2 linked regions of the Homo sapiens genome follow. The main gene of each other region encodes a partner of the protein of the gene in region 2 in a complex. Links are inferred from orthologs where the notes say so. Each region holds a gene or a part of one and is shown on either strand. Other genes may lie near its edges.

The links. The genes of interacting proteins can lie anywhere in the genome.
Region 1: the proteins of TLN1 (region 2) and PIP5K1C are in contact, whole or in part, in a crystal structure (PDB 1Y19), measured with the Mus musculus proteins. The link is inferred for Homo sapiens from one-to-one orthologs. Residues at the interface, in NP_035732.2 of Mus musculus: Pro209, Val210, Gln211, Leu212, Leu214; in NP_032870.2 of Mus musculus: Pro646, Leu647, His648, Tyr649, Ser650, Ala651.

The regions. Positions count from the first base shown.
Region 1 is NC_000019.10:3,648,469-3,655,499, forward strand, and holds part of PIP5K1C (phosphatidylinositol 4-phosphate 5-kinase type-1 gamma), read right to left. Parts: intron 5,122-7,031; coding exon 4,822-5,121; intron 3,564-4,821; coding exon 3,358-3,563; intron 3,283-3,357; exon of another isoform or gene 1,659-3,282; coding exon of another isoform or gene 1,528-1,658; intron 241-1,527; coding exon 157-240; intron 1-156. UniProt on the Homo sapiens protein: Catalyzes the phosphorylation of phosphatidylinositol 4-phosphate (PtdIns(4)P/PI4P) to form phosphatidylinositol 4,5-bisphosphate (PtdIns(4,5)P2/PIP2), a lipid second messenger that regulates several cellular processes such as signal transduction, vesicle trafficking, actin cytoskeleton dynamics, cell adhesion, and cell motility.
Region 2 is NC_000009.12:35,729,183-35,736,968, reverse strand, and holds the start of TLN1 (talin-1), read left to right. Parts: upstream 1-4,773; 5' UTR 4,774-4,894; intron 4,895-7,786. Other genes in the region: CREB3 (cyclic AMP-responsive element-binding protein 3), read right to left, coding at 243-577, 658-742, 837-921, 1,595-1,663, 1,754-1,860, 3,484-3,573, 3,687-3,754, 3,826-3,973 and 1 more. UniProt on the Homo sapiens protein: High molecular weight cytoskeletal protein concentrated at regions of cell-matrix and cell-cell contacts. Involved in connections of major cytoskeletal structures to the plasma membrane.

The sequences.
Region 1 (7,031 bases), on a different chromosome or scaffold from region 2:
GGGGCGCCCATCCACCTGTGGGACTGCAGACCCAGGCGCCCACCTGTGGGGCTGCAGACCCGGGCGCCCACCTGTGGGGCTGCAGACCCGGGCGCCCACCTGTGGGACTGCAGACCCGGGGCGTCCACCTGTAGGACTGCAGACCCGGGCACCCACCTGTAGGACTGCAGGATGTCGATGATGCCAATGTGCAGCAGCAGCCGCTCCCCGCGGCCGTTCACAGCGGGGATCCCGCCCATCCTGGGGAGAGAGGCCGAGGGTACCATCAGCATCCCGCAGAGCTGGGACTCGGGGCAGGCGGGGCTGGGGACTCCAGGGCTAGGGAGTCCATCTGCTCCTGTGGGTGGCAACTTGGCCAAGCTCTCGGAGTGGGGCCTGGCACCCGGGAACCTCTGTCCTGACATCCCTCCATCACCCCCAGCCTCAAACCCAGGCCCAGGCACTGCTGAGGAGTCCCAGCTAGGAGGCCTGGGCACATACCCCCTACACACACGTGTGCCTGGACACACACATGCACACACACGCACACTGCATGCCCAGGTAGGGCCACGGGGTCTCAGGTACAGACTGGGGAGTTAATTGTCACCCGGCACCATGCCCACACGTCCCCTGCCCAGCGCGGGAGTTAACTGTCACCCGGCACCATGCCCACACGTCCCCTGCCCAGCGCGGGAGTTAACTGTCACCCGGCACCATGCCCACACGTCCCCTGCCCAGCGCGGGAGTTAACTGTCACCCGGCACCATGCCCACACGTCCCCTGCCCAGCGCGGGAGTTAACTGTCACCCGGCACCATGCCCACACGTCCCCTGCCCAGCGCGGGAGTTAACTGTCACCCGGCACCGTGCCCACACGTCCCCTGCCCAGCGCGGGAGTTAACTGTCACCCGGCACCGTGCCCACACGTCCCCTGCCCAGCGCGGGAGTTAACTGTCACCCGGCACCGTGCCCACACGTCCCCTGCCCAGCGCGGGAGTTAACTGTCACCCGGCACCGTGCCCACACGTCCCCTGCCCAGCGCGGGAGTTAACTGTCACCCGGCACCATGCCCACACGTCCCCTGCCCAGCGCGGGAGTTAACTGTCACCCGGCACCGTGCCCACACGTCCCCTGCCCAGCGCGGGAGTTAACTGTCACCCGGCACCGTGCCCACACGTCCCCTGCCCAGCGCGGGAGTTAACTGTCACCCGGCACCGTGCCCACACGTCCCCTGCCCAGCGCGGGAGTTAACTGTCACCCGGCACCGTGCCCACACGTCCCCTGCCCAGCGCGGGAGTTAACTGTCACCCGGCACCGTGCCCACACGTCCCCTGCCCAGCGCGGGAGTTAACTGTCACCCGGCACCGTGCCCACACGTCCCCTGCCCAGCGCGGGAGTTAACTGTCACCCGGCACCGTGCCCACACGTCCCCTGCCCAGCGCGGTTAGTGAGGCCACACGTGCAGCAGTCATCCTGAAGCCACTGGGACCCAGACCCGCTGGGCTGGCGCCCTGCACGCTCTGCTCACGCCACAGGCTGGTACGCTCACCTGCTCCCCCGCCAGGCCAGCGAAGACCCTACAAACGCCAGGATGGTCTGAGGGGGAGCTGTGCCTGGCCTTGGCTCCCGCACCCCCCCGCAGCTACACCCTGGTTGGGGCCCCGGCTCCTCCTCTGCCATCCATGGGAAATACCACCACCGCTGCAAACCAAAGCCCAGCTGGTGGCCTAGTGCCAGCCAGTGCCAGCCAGCACCGTCCCTGGGGCCAGGCCAGGTGGAACTTGGCTCCACACCTTCGTGGCTGCACTGGGGAAGGCTGCCCCCCAACCTAGGAGCCTATTTCCTCAGCTGGAAACAGGGGAAGCCCACCTCCCTCCTCCAAGGCCGCTGTGAAGACTGAACAGGTACCAAAGTGAAGGCTCGGGCCTGCCCCCACTGTCAGGGTGCTGCTGTGACCAGGGCACAATCTCAGCACTGCTATACGACACCTGTCTATCCCGCATCCGGGGCCATGTCTGGGGACATCTGTGGTTGTCACAACTGGGGGGTGCTCCTGGCCCGGAGTGGGTGGAGGCCCGGGACGCTGCTCAGCACCCTGCAGTGCCCAGGACAGCCCCACCCCAGAGAATGACCCAGCCCTCACATCCAGTGTCCCAGGAGAGCTCTGTGAGTATCTCCCCAGCCAAACCCTGAGCCCTGTGAGGGCAGGGCCTGCCTGGTCCCTCTGCCCCTGGTGTCCAGCAGACATGACTGCAGGCCACTGAGATGTGGCCTCCTCTCTCCACCACCGTTCCTATCTTCTGTGGCAGCCACTTTTTTTTTCTTTTTGGACAGAGTTTAGCTCTTGTTGCCCAGGCTGGAGTGCAATAGCTCAATCTCAGCTCACTGCAACCTCCACCTCCTGGGTTCAAGCGATTCTCCTGCCTCAGCCTCCCAAGTAGCTGGGATTACAGGCGTGCACCACCACGCCCAGCTAATATTTTGTATTAAGCAGAGATGGGGTTTCACCATGTTGGCCAGGCTGGTCTGGAACTCCTGACCTCAGATGATCCACCTGCCTCAGCCTCCCAAAGTGCTGGGATTACAGGTGTGAGCCACCGCGCCCAGCGTTTTTTTTTTTTTTTTTAAGACAGGGTCTCACTCTGTTGCCCAAGCTGGAGTGCAGTGGTGTGATCTTGGCTCACTGCAACCTCCGCCTGCCACGCTCACGCCTGCCACGCCTTCAGCCTCCCAAGTAGTTGGGACTACAGGTGCACGTGCCACCACGTCCAGCTACATTTTATATTTTTTGTAGAGATGGGGTCTTGCCATGTTGCCCAGGCTGGTACTGAACTCCGGGGCTGAGGCAATCCTCCCACCTTGGTCTCCCAAGGTGCTGGGAGTACAGGCATGAGACACTGCGCCCAGCCAGCAGCTGCTTTGATCTGTGTGGAATCGGATTTTGCAGTCCCTCTGCTTCGTGGGCTGTGTCCTGCTGTGAGCCCTGCCTCGCCCGATCCCTCTGGCCTCCCATGCGCCTTCCACACCTTTGTGGCCCCTCTCTGCACGGGTGGCGTGTAGACCCCTCTGAGTGCCACCGGGAAACGCTATCTCTCTCTCATTCCTGTGGATGGCCAGTGGCCTCGGCCCAGTCACGGGTGAATGGGAAACGCCCCCACCATTGCAAGCCAAGGCCCGGAACCCTGCACTCAGCCTGCGGCCCGCACTACGGCCTGGCTTCGCTCTGAGGCGCTGGCACAAGGCTCCCAGACTCTGTCTGTCACCCACGCATGCCCTCGCCAGCCCTCCCTGCCTGTTTTCACACTTGGGACGGGGATGGGGAACTGGAGCCTGTGGGGAAGGGAAGCGGGACGGGTCCGGCGGCCCCCCGCCCACCTACGTGTCATCCGATTCGATGGCCTCCCCGCGCGCGGCGCCACCCTGGATGGACTCCATGGCCGTGGAGTAGAGCGCCTTCTGGCCCACAGGCCGCTTCTCATCTGAGGTGCTCTGGGCGCCCTGCGCCTGCCGCTCGCGCTCGTGCTGGTCGATGTTGTGCACGCCCAGCAGCAGGCTGTAGTCCATGATCTTGAAACTTTCCAGGACCTGGCGGGATCGGGCAGGAACACGCCACGCCGTCAGCCGTCTCTATCCCCCACAACGGCTCCCGGACCCTATGGGGTTCCCAGCACGGATGGCCCCGTGGGCTCGGGTGTGAGAGATGGAGTCCCACGGCCAGGCAGGAGTGGGGGTTCTAGTGTTATCCTGAGGAACAGAGGGGCTGCGGTCACACAGCGGCATCAGAGCAGGCCAGAGAATGGGGGCTTCCAGCCTCACAGCAGGCTGCCCCGGGCACTGAGACAGGGACTTCCCTTCCTGGCTTTACTCCTTCCTGAGAGACAGGGAGCCGGGCCTATGCTCTGACCAGCCCAGGCCCATGGGCAAGGACGTGCCCGGCCTGACAGGTGACACCCAGGTGGGTGGATGCCCAGGGTAGCCTCAAGGCCCCTGAGTGGTCTGGGCGGTTTTCTGGGGGTATGGGTCAAGTTCTCAAAGGGGTCGGGGAGCTGGGGATGGTCAGCAGCGGGGCCTGGGTGGAGTTGGGGAGCTGGGAGGTCCCAGGCTCTGCTCCTGACAGGCTGGGGCCTCCCCTCCTTGGCTCCATGCCTCGAAGCTGCCGGGGTGGGACGGGGACGACGGAGCTAACCCAGGCAGAGGAAGAGCCGTGCATATCATTCTTTCGCTAACACGGAGCCAACGCAGGCTCCACGGGGACAGGAGCCAGACCCTCACTGGACGCACATGGGCCCTCACTGTGGCCTGCAGAGCAAGCAGTCATCCCATTTGATGGGTGAGGAAACTGAGGCACAGCAAGCTCTCATGGCTGGCTGGGAGCTCTGGGCTTGTGACCACAGCATCTGAAGGCTGGGCTCTTCTCTGGGGGGTGGGGGGACTCTACCACTGTCATCGTGTAACCTCCAGAGGAACCACTTCTCAGCAGTGCAGACACTCCCGACCCCCAAGGGCTGGGTCTGGGGACATGTTATAAGTGTTTTGTTTTCTTTGTGAGATGGGGTCTCACAATGTTGCCCCTGCTGGTCTTGAAACCCTGGGCTCAAGCCATCTGCCTGCCTCCCAAAGAGCTGGGATCCCAGGCGTGAGCCACTGTGTCCGGCCACATTTTAGGTTAAGGCCATAAAAGCTTGAGCGCTTCTGGATCCCACACTGGGGTGGGGCCTGCTGTAGGCTGCAGGGCAGGTGGGCCTCGGCCTGGCACCCTCCCTGGCCCTGCCTGCCCAGGCCGAGCCCTCACCACGCAGTCCCACCTGCCACCCTCCCTCCCCGGCCGGGGCCGAGCCCTCACCAGGCAGTCCCGCTGCAGCGTCTTGACCAGGGCGCTGAAGGTGTCGGCGTCCAGCAGGAGCCCCTCGGGCATGTCCTGCATGAAGTCCAGGTCCTTGTAGGTGGGGAAGCTCTTCTCCTTCTCCTTCTTGCTGGCGCGCCGCTTGTAGGTGGAGCCCTTGAGGTCGAACTTGAGGTGCATCTTGACCACGCGGGGCAGGATGTTGTTCATGACCACGACGCGGATGTTCTTGCCCCCCGACTGCACGCAGTACAGCCCATAGAACTTGGGCAGCAGCGTCCGCGGGTTCTGGTTGAGGTTCTGCCGGGGGAAGAGGGCAAGTCGTGGAGGGCGGCTGGGCCACAGACTCACGGGGGCGGGCAAAGCAGGCCTCTGCCTCAGGGGGCTCATGGATGCCCCTGGCCAGCCCCCCTCTCTCCCCAGAAGCCCTCGGGGACCCCGTTCCTATGCAGGCACCCAGCTGGCCTTCCCACGGCACCCTGACTCTCATGGGCCACAACTGTGAGCTCCAGGAGGGTCTGTTTCTACAGAGCCAGGCCCCAAGGCAGGCGCTTCTGTTCCAGCAGAAGCTTCCACACTCCCTGCCTGCCCACAGACATCGCCCTGGCTGGGCTCGCCTGTTGGGAGGTCTGGAGGCCGGAAACGCAATGCTGTATCCTAAAATACATACATGTATGTATATGCACACACAAACACATACACACACACGCACACACACATGTATTTTCTTGAGACAGGGTCTCGCTCTGTCGCCCAGGCTGGAGTGCAACGGTGCGATCACAGCTCACTGCAGCCTCCACCTCCAGGGCTCAAACCATCCTCCCACCTCAGCCTCCGAAAGTGCCAGGACTCCAGGCGTGAGCCCAGCCTCTATGTTGGTTATGCTTTGCCTGTGTTGAACTGATCAACTCAGACTTTCACTCCAAATCTGGGTCCCCAGGCGCAGTGACGAGTCTGGGTCCTGCTGTACCCTGTAGACCCCAAGCAGGCACTGGGTGACTCAGGGGCACCCAAGTGAAGCAACAGCGCCCCCTGCCCAGAGCCTCTCAATGACGAACCCAGTGGGAAGCTGCCCAGGTGTCGGGGCTGAGACAGACCCACAGGGAGAGGAGTGAGGGGCGCGGACTCAGGCACCAGCCTGGGCAGGCTAGGTGAACTCCAGCCCCTGGGCCGAATCCGGCCACCACCTATTTTTGTAGGGCTGTGAGCTAAGAATGGTTTTTCCATTTTTAAAAAGTGGAAAGGGCCCAGTGCGATGGCTCATGCCTGTAATCCTAGCACTGTGGGAGGCCGAGGCGGGCGGATCACCTGAGGTCAGGAGTTTGAGACCAGCCTGGCCAACATGGTGAAACCCCGTCTCTATTAAAAATAAAAATTAGCTGGGAGTGGTGGCGCATGCCTGTAATCCCAGCTGCTTGGGAGGCTGAGGCAGGAGAATCACTTGAACCTAGGAGATGGAGGTTGCAGTGAGCCGAGATTGTGCCATTGCATTCCAGCCTGGGCAACAGAGCCAGACTCCATCTCAAAAGAAAAAAAAAAAAAAAGGCCAAGCACAGTGGCTCACATCTATAATCCTAGCACTTTGGGAGGCCAAGGCAGGCAGATCATGAAGTCAGGAGACCAGCTTGACCAACACGGTGAAACCCCATCTCTACTAAAAATACAAAAATTAGCCAGGCGTGGTGGTAGGTGCCTGGAATCACAACTACTCAGGAGGCTGAGGCAGCAGAATCGCTTGAACCCAGGAGGCGGAGCTTGCAGTAAGCCAAGATCACGCCAATGCACTCCAGCCTGGGTGACAGAGCGAGACTCCATCTCAAAAAAAAAAAAAAAAAAAAAAATGAAGAGGCCAGGCGCGGTGGCTCACGCCTATAATTCCAACACTCCAGGAGGCCGAGACAGGCAGATCACGACATCAGGAAATCGAGACCATCCTGGCTAACACGGTGAAACCATGTCTCTACTAAAAATATAAAAAAATAGCCAGGCGTGGTGGCGGGCGCCTGTAGTCCCAGCTACTCGGGAGGCTGAGGCAGGAGAATGGCTTGAACCCAGGAGGGGGAGGCTGCAGTGAGCCAAGATGGCACCACTGCACTCCAGCCTGGGTGACAGAGCGAGACTCCGTCTCAAAACATAAATAAATAAATAAAAAAGTGGAGAAATAGAAAATAGTCTTTGATGACACGTGAAAGTGATATGGAATTCGCATT
Region 2 (7,786 bases):
TGTTCCCTGACTGCGTGAAATGTTCAGGGAGGTCAGTTGATTTCCCCAGGTACATTCATGGTGTGACAGACACATGGGTACAAATAAAAGACCCAGAAAGCCATTAAGTGTGGTGTGTTTGAGCCCTCAGTCGTCCTGACAGGGCACAGGAGCTGCGGCCAGCCCTTGCCCACCGCTTTTTATTTGGACACAGATGGGGAGCCCCCCAGGCTCCTGCTGAGACCCCCCACATATCCTCATATCTAGCCTGAGTATCTGTCCTGCAAAATGACAGAGGGGCTACCAGTAGGAAGCCATCCTCCCTTCCTTGTGAGATTTGCCTGCAGGGGGAGGATGGGACCTCGGCAGAGAGGCTCTGAGAAGAGGTCAGGGAATGGCCACTCCAGGGGAGGCTCTGCACTGGGAGCCTGAGGCATGTAATGCAGCAGGCAGGAAGTGTTGCCAGGGGCCTGGAGTACACAGTCTGAGCCGTCCAACCACTGGTGTGTGCTGTCTTTCGGCACTTCTGACTGCAGGGCAGGCAGCTCCAGCTGGTAAGGGTCCTCACTGGGGAGGGCACGAAGCTGGCGGGACAACACTGAGGAGACAAAGAATCTTCAGAGGCCAACCCAGACCTCTCCCCTTGCCCTGTCTGAGAGCTATCCTTAAGCCTCTTACCTCCATGCTCAGCTGGCAGGCTCCCCCTTGTGTCAGAGGAGTACATAGCAGGTACAAGGAGGAGGCAGAAGGAGACTAGTAGGACCTAGAGCACAGGAAAAAGGAGATGAAGAAGGGCTCTGGATTGCCCTGTCCCCACCAACTGAGAAAAGGATTTCTCCCCTCATCACCATCCTCACCAAGATGCAGGTGCTGCTGCTGCTGGTTTTGTTTGATATCTCAATCACCATGGCCTGGAGTTTCCTCAGTTGATCTAGAAGGGACCTAGAGGAAGAGAGGGGCCAATAGTGAGCATCCCCTGGCCTAGCATCCTGAGACACAGTGAAACTCCTGTTCAGGCCACCTCCTCCATCTCTGCACTGGATCCTCTCTCTTACTTTTCATTCTATTTTTGCAAACGACTTCTTCCTCTCTGGACAAAATGCCTGAAGTTCCTCATTAAAACAACAACAACAACAAAAAGCAAAAACAAAACAAAACAAAAAAACTCTGCCAGGACTTAACCTCCTTTGCGAATATCATCAGTCGTTCCCCACTGTCTGATCAGCTATGCACATAATCCTCACCAGGCATTTTCTATGTTCTCTACCTTCTGTCCCAGCTCATGTGTGTTAAGAGTTCCAGCCCAAGATGACTATGCTGGACTAGTCCTCTTGCCTAGGATGCTTTCTCTCTGCCTAGAATGCTTTCCCAACCCAACCCCAGAATCCTAACTACTATGAAAGCCCATGACGTCTTTCTTACCCCCTTTCTTTTTCTTGGTACTTAACTTATTCTTAGTTACTTGTAAATGTATTCCTCACTACTGGGAGCTTCTTGGAATCAGAGACCTAGTGAAGGCAGCTGCCCAGTTAGAAATCAAGTGTAGGGCAGGGGAAAGAGTGAGAAAGCATTAAATGAGGGGCATAGGAAGGGAATGGTTTGGAGGGATACTTACAAATTCTGTTCCTCCAGAAGCTGTACTTTGTTCTGAAGCTCCATATTCTGGGCTGTGTATTTCAAGACCCTGGGGGAAATAACAAAGATACGGGGATATGGCCTGTATCCTCCCTTCAAAAACCTAATACTTACAACAGAGTCCCTCTCCCTTTCATACCTGCTCTCTAAACCCCCAACATACACCTTCTTTTTCCTGCGGCTCTCTTGAGCAGATCTTTTATTTCGAATCTTCCTCCGCACACGTTTCAGAATTTGTTCCTCTGTCTGAAAGGAAACAGGGAAAGGGATATCATTAGAGGAACTCTAGAAAAAGGAGTTGAAACGCAACTGAGATCAATCTCTTTCCAATACAGAAATCCCTTCTACAGCTTCCCTGACCAACAGGCATTCAGATTCTTTCTGAATGCCTCCACGGACCAGGTGTTAACCCTAACAAGCCAGACCATTTTAAACTATTAAAAAAAAAACTGGTCGGGCAGTATTCAGGCGACGTGGCTCATGCCTGTAATCCCAACACTTTGGGGAGCTAAGACAGGAGGACCGGTTGAGCCCAGGAGTTTGAGACCAGCCTGAGCAACATAGTGAGACCTTGTCTCTACTAAAAATAAAAAATTAGCCGGGTGTGGTGGCACATGCCTGTGGTCCCTGCTACTCAGGAGACTGAGGAAGGAGGATCACTTGAGCCTGAGAGGTTGAAGCTGTAGTGAGCCATGATCTCGCCACTATTCTCCAACCTGGGCAATAAAGCAAGAACCTGTCTTCAAACAAGCAAATAAAAACTTCCTTATCCTGAACCAACAGCTGCCTCCTTATAATTTCTATCCGTTGGACTTACCTAGTATCTCTGGGGCCAAATAGAATAAACCCTGTTTAGCTATTTTAAGGCACTTAACATTTCCTCAGAGCTTAAAGAAAAAAAAAAAGACAAAATTTTTAACTCATCTTCTCAGGATAGACTGCATCCTCTTAGTATCTGTCAAAGATGTGCTCTAGCCAGTATCAAGGAAAGCAAGAGAGTGACTTGTAGAGACAATAACTCTATTGCTACAGTTTCCAAATCCCATGAACTTTCTTAGTAGCCACATCACACTGCTGACTCATCTTGTACTTTGAAGAAATTAAAATTCTTCACTTTGGGAGGCCAAGGTGGGTAGATCACTTGAGCCCAGGAGTTCGAGACCAGCCTGGCAACAAGGCAAAACCCCATTTCTACTAAAAATACCAAAAAAAAAATTGCCGGGCAGGGTAGTGTGCACCTGTAGTCTCAGCTACTCGGGAGGCTGAGGTGGGAGAATCACCTAAGCCCAGAAAGTCAAGGCTGCAGTGAGCCATGATCACATCAGTGCACTCCAGCCTGGGCAACAGAGCAAGACCTTGTCAAAAAATATATATATATTCCTGTAACCTTTCTATTAATGAGCACTGATTTCATCATAGTACCCCAGTACTCTGCTTGTGAAGTTGCCACTCATTGCTTAAAACTGAAAACTAAGGATTTTACATTTATTCATGTACTGCTTAGTCCAACCCTGTTGAACTCTCTAAACAGTTCTACCATTCAGCAAGAGGTGGATTACTATGAAGCCAACGAAGTGTCAAGGCCCTTCACTTACACAGTCCTTTCCAAGGCCCAATACTAATGTTGCACTGATAATTTTGAGTTATTTTTTTAACAGAACACCAAAATTTGTATAAGCCCAACAAAAACGAGGATCTGCCCTTGCATCTGGCATATTGTGTACCTGCCTCAACTTCCTATTAGCAATAAATCTACTAAGTTTCTCACCTCAATCCTTTTTTAAAGTTATTGATATAAAGTTAACAGAATTTGCCTACTTGGGACTTTTAATCCCTTTTCAGCCTTTGTTCAACCAATGAGAGTCTTACCTTAGTGAGAGGAAGTGTCTCAGGCAGAATAAGCCCCTCCTTCTCCAATAGACTCTTCTCCTCATCTGTCAGTACTAGCCTAGCAATCTCCTAGGGTAACAAGAAAGTGGACGGCAGTTGCATGGGGATGTCAGAGAGGAATGGGGAATCCTGCCCCCACCTGGGGAATGTGAGAGTAATCTCCTGAAAATCAAGTCAAGTACCTGCTCTGCCAGCTCCTCCATATGCTGTGGAGTCATCTGGGTCCCCTCTTTTCTACAGCTCTCACTCTCTGCAAAAGGGAAAGTATGAATAGCCAGGCCCATGAACCCTGTCCTCCCCGCAAACTTATTTCAGACTCACCTAGATCCATAGAGACAGTTTCCCGTGGGAGGGAGTAGGTGTGGTCATGGTGGACAAGGCAGGGGTTGGAGGAGCTGAGAATGTTCAACGACGCTGGGGGACTCAGCAGGGAGCACAGCAAATCATCTACTTCCCAGTCGCTCGGTACCTGCGCAGGGTTCCAATGAACAGGCCTTGACCTTATCACCATCACCTGACTTCATGGACATCCCACGCTTTCCCCAGTCAGAACCCCAACCTACCTCAGAAAGCGGCAGCGCCCAGTCCAGTGGGGCCCTCACGGCCTCATCGGGTGCCGTCCCCAAATCTCCACTTTCCTCTAGCAGGAAGGCCAGCAGGTCTTGGTCACCAGCATCCAATTCCAGCTCCATTTGGGACAACTACGGAAAGGGTGGGCCACCGGGCCCCAACGTCCGAAGCCCAGACACGAGCCCCAGGCCAGCTGTAGGCCTCGGGCACCTATCCACTGTCCCTCTACGGCCGGGATTCCCCGCCGGCGGCTTTCCATAGCCCTCTCCGGACCCGCCTCCCAGGCTCAATTCTCCTCAGCCTCCAACGCAGCGAAAGTGACGCACCCCACCCCGTGGCACTGTGGGACTTGGAGTTCCCTCCAACTGAGAAGAGGCTTGGGTGCAGCGCCACGTCCCAGGGGCTATGCAAATGTAGGGGACGGCCCTGCTGCCGCCTCGCACCCCGAGGGCGGGGGTTCCGGGGCTCCGGCTCCGCCTTCTACCCCAAGCTAGAAAAAGGAAGAGTTCTAGCCTGAAAGGGAACTCGGGCGTCGTCCTGGCGTCCTCTCCGGATTGCGCCGCACCCTCGCTTCCTGCCAGGGAGGGGCTGCCGGGCTTTGGCGGCTCCCGAGCATCGAGAACGGGGCCAGAGCAGCTTCCTGCCTGCCCCCCGCGACCATAGAGCGCGGGCCCAGGGCGCCGCCCGCGGGTGGGGGACGTTCCCAGGACGGAAGTGGCCGAGAGAGTGTCGAAGGGAGGGCGAGGCCGGAGCCCGAGGGCGACCCGAGAAGCGGCGGGGCGGCGGGCCGGCGGGCGGGGCGCAGAGCCAGGCAGCGCAGGTAGGCCAGACCGGGCCGGGCGGGGGCCTTAGGGTGGGGCCGCGGGGCCTGGCCCCGGGGCGGGCGGGCCCTGCCTCTCTTGCGTGTCCGGTTCGGGTCCTATTAGTTGGAGAGGTCAGCGTCCAGCGCATCTCGGCTTGAGCTCGGCGTGAAGTAGGCCGTCTTGGGGAAGACAGGCCTTTCCTGGGAGCAGTCCTATGTCTGGGATAGGCTTTGGGGAGCGTGAGGAGTCGGGTGGCAGCGGGGCGCAGGGCGGGGACGGGCTTTGGTGTTAGCTGATAGCGGGCATGTGGGTAGGAAAGCTTTGGGTGAGTTGGGGATTAGGTGGGGTCCGTTTAGGAATCAAGGGTCGCTATAGGAGTTAAAAGCTGGGGTTAAAACTTAAGAGTTAGTGTGAGTCAGGTCCGTTTTAGATAGGTAAGGTTTAGATTACGGTCATTATCTTGTTTGCTGGGATGGCCATCATACGTCATAATTTGAGTTCAGGGTCAGGTTAAGGGTCAACAAACAACAGGAATCAGGTTAGAGCTTGTTTGAGGGATTAAAGAATGTTGGCATGGTCGGTGTTAAGGATAAACAGTGAAAGCGTGAGTTAGGAATCAAATTATAAATGAACTTTAGGCTTAGGGGTCAACATTTAGGGTTAACATCAGGGGATTTGGTGCTAAAGGCAAAACTTAGATCAGTTTCAGGGATCAGGGATTGGATATGAGTCTGTGCTAGGAAAGGGATGAATGTCCAAGCCGGTACTGGGAATCAGGAAACAAATTAGAGGTGGGGTTAATGTTAGGAATTTGGGGCAGCTTTAGGGGTTGTGGTTTGAGGCTAGCATAGTTGACCTTGAGCAGATAAAATTTAAGAGGTTGGCAGTAGGTAAATGCCCTTCTTTTGTAGGGAAATCCTTTATTCCTATGTAGTTACAGGGGCTTCTTTTTACCCAGAGAGATAAACTAATTTCAGGCTAGCGTTCTGGCTTTAGCTAGAATTGCAGGCATCTGGGATTCCAGCTTCTTTATTCCATTCTCTAAGCCCAAGGCCCTTGCTGTGGCCACCACAGTTAGGGGACAGAGATTCTGGACTGTGTTGTTTACAGACAACATAGGTGGGAAATAGGGACCCAGGATGTACAAGGCCTAGTCACAAGTTGGGGACTGCCTAGGGAAGAAGGAGCTGATGACTATGGGGGAAGCTAACCAAGGAATCACTGTTGCCATGGGAGAAGGGAATAACTGAATCCCCTGAAAGTTTAGCCCTGCTTCTCCCACTTCACTTGTTCTCTTGGTATTAAGCCCTCCTCTCCAACTCTCATCCCTGACTCTGCATTTCACACCCATCCTGCCTATCCCCTTACAAAATACTTCCCTTGCCTTTAACTCTCCCATGCTCATCTTATCATCCGTTCCCATCCTTAGTTCTACCTCCCTCACCAACCTTTAATCCGCACATCCTACCTGAATTTACCCTCATCAAAACCTGAGCTTTCCCATCATTTTAAATTACTCTCCTACCATTTTCACCCAGTCATGTACCTACATTCCACCTGGTCATCTGCTGAATACCCTACTCCCATCCCCTGCTGTGTGTCACCCCCTGGATCTAAGCCTCTTTTAATTTCTTGGACCATTTGTAGATCCCCTTCCCCCACTCCCCAACAGAAAAGAGGAAACGAGACCCAAAGAGGAAACTGGGTCTTGCTGATCCCACGCCCAGCCAGGCCACTGACCACACCCCCACTTCACTCCCAGCCTGACCCTGCCACTGACCACAGCACTATCCTCTACTCAGCCTGACCCAGCCACTGGCTGTACCCCATCCCCCATCCCAGCTCCAGCTTTACTTAGACATTGCCAATGTCCCTTCACTTTCCCACCCCCACCCCAGTCTGATTTAGTGACTGACCACAGGCCCAGCTCTTCTCAACCTCCTATAGCCTGACCTGGCCTCTGACCTCACCCCATCATTCCCTGACTTAGCCACCATCCATGTAATCATTCCCCTTCCCCCAACCTGATGCAGTGACTGGTCATATATGTATCTTATGTATATGTATTTTTCCAAACACCATCATCACCAGCATTCTTTTTCTACACCCTGTCTTCTCATCCTTTTTCTACACCCTGTCTTCCCCATTCCCAGCCTGATGCAGTCACTAACCCAACCCCATCTGCCCCTAGTGGCTACTAATCATATACTCATACCCTTTTTCCCCACAGCCTAACCACATCCCGTAACCACAGCCTCATCCTCACATTCTCTGCCCAACCTGATCCTTTCCCCTCTTCCCAATTCGTCGCCTAAACTCAAGCTGCCCCAGCCGCTAAAGTGGCTGCTGATGATAGGAAGCTGTGGGACTCTAACCTGTCTACCTTAGTAGTTATTAGGTCCTGTCATTTCTACCTCCCCAAACTTGTTCTGAGTGACATCTTCCTCAATGCCATTCCAACTCCGGCTTCATTACCTTTAATTTGTACTAATACAGTGTCCTTCTAACTAATCTCCAAGGTAACTGCCAGAGTTATTTTTCTAAAATCCAGTTCCGGTTATGTCTCTTCTCTGCTCAAAGACTCCCTTGGCTTCCTTTTGTCCTCCAATAAGTAAAATTCCTCATACCCCTCTCCAGTCTTCCTCTGCCTTTCCATCCTAACCCTGACTTCCCCACCACTGCTCCCTTGCAGGTACCCCTGTGCTTCAACAGCCTGCCTGCTCACTTCCCTGAATGCTCCTCCACGATTTACTGCTTCTCCATCTTTGCTTATGCTATTTCTCTGCCTGGAGTGAAAACTACCCCTGACACATCTCCAGCTGGCTGGCGTAGTGGAGAAAGCTTGGGCTTTGCAGTCAGAAACCTGGGTTCGGATCCTGGCTTCACAACTTATTATTTGGAGAAGTATT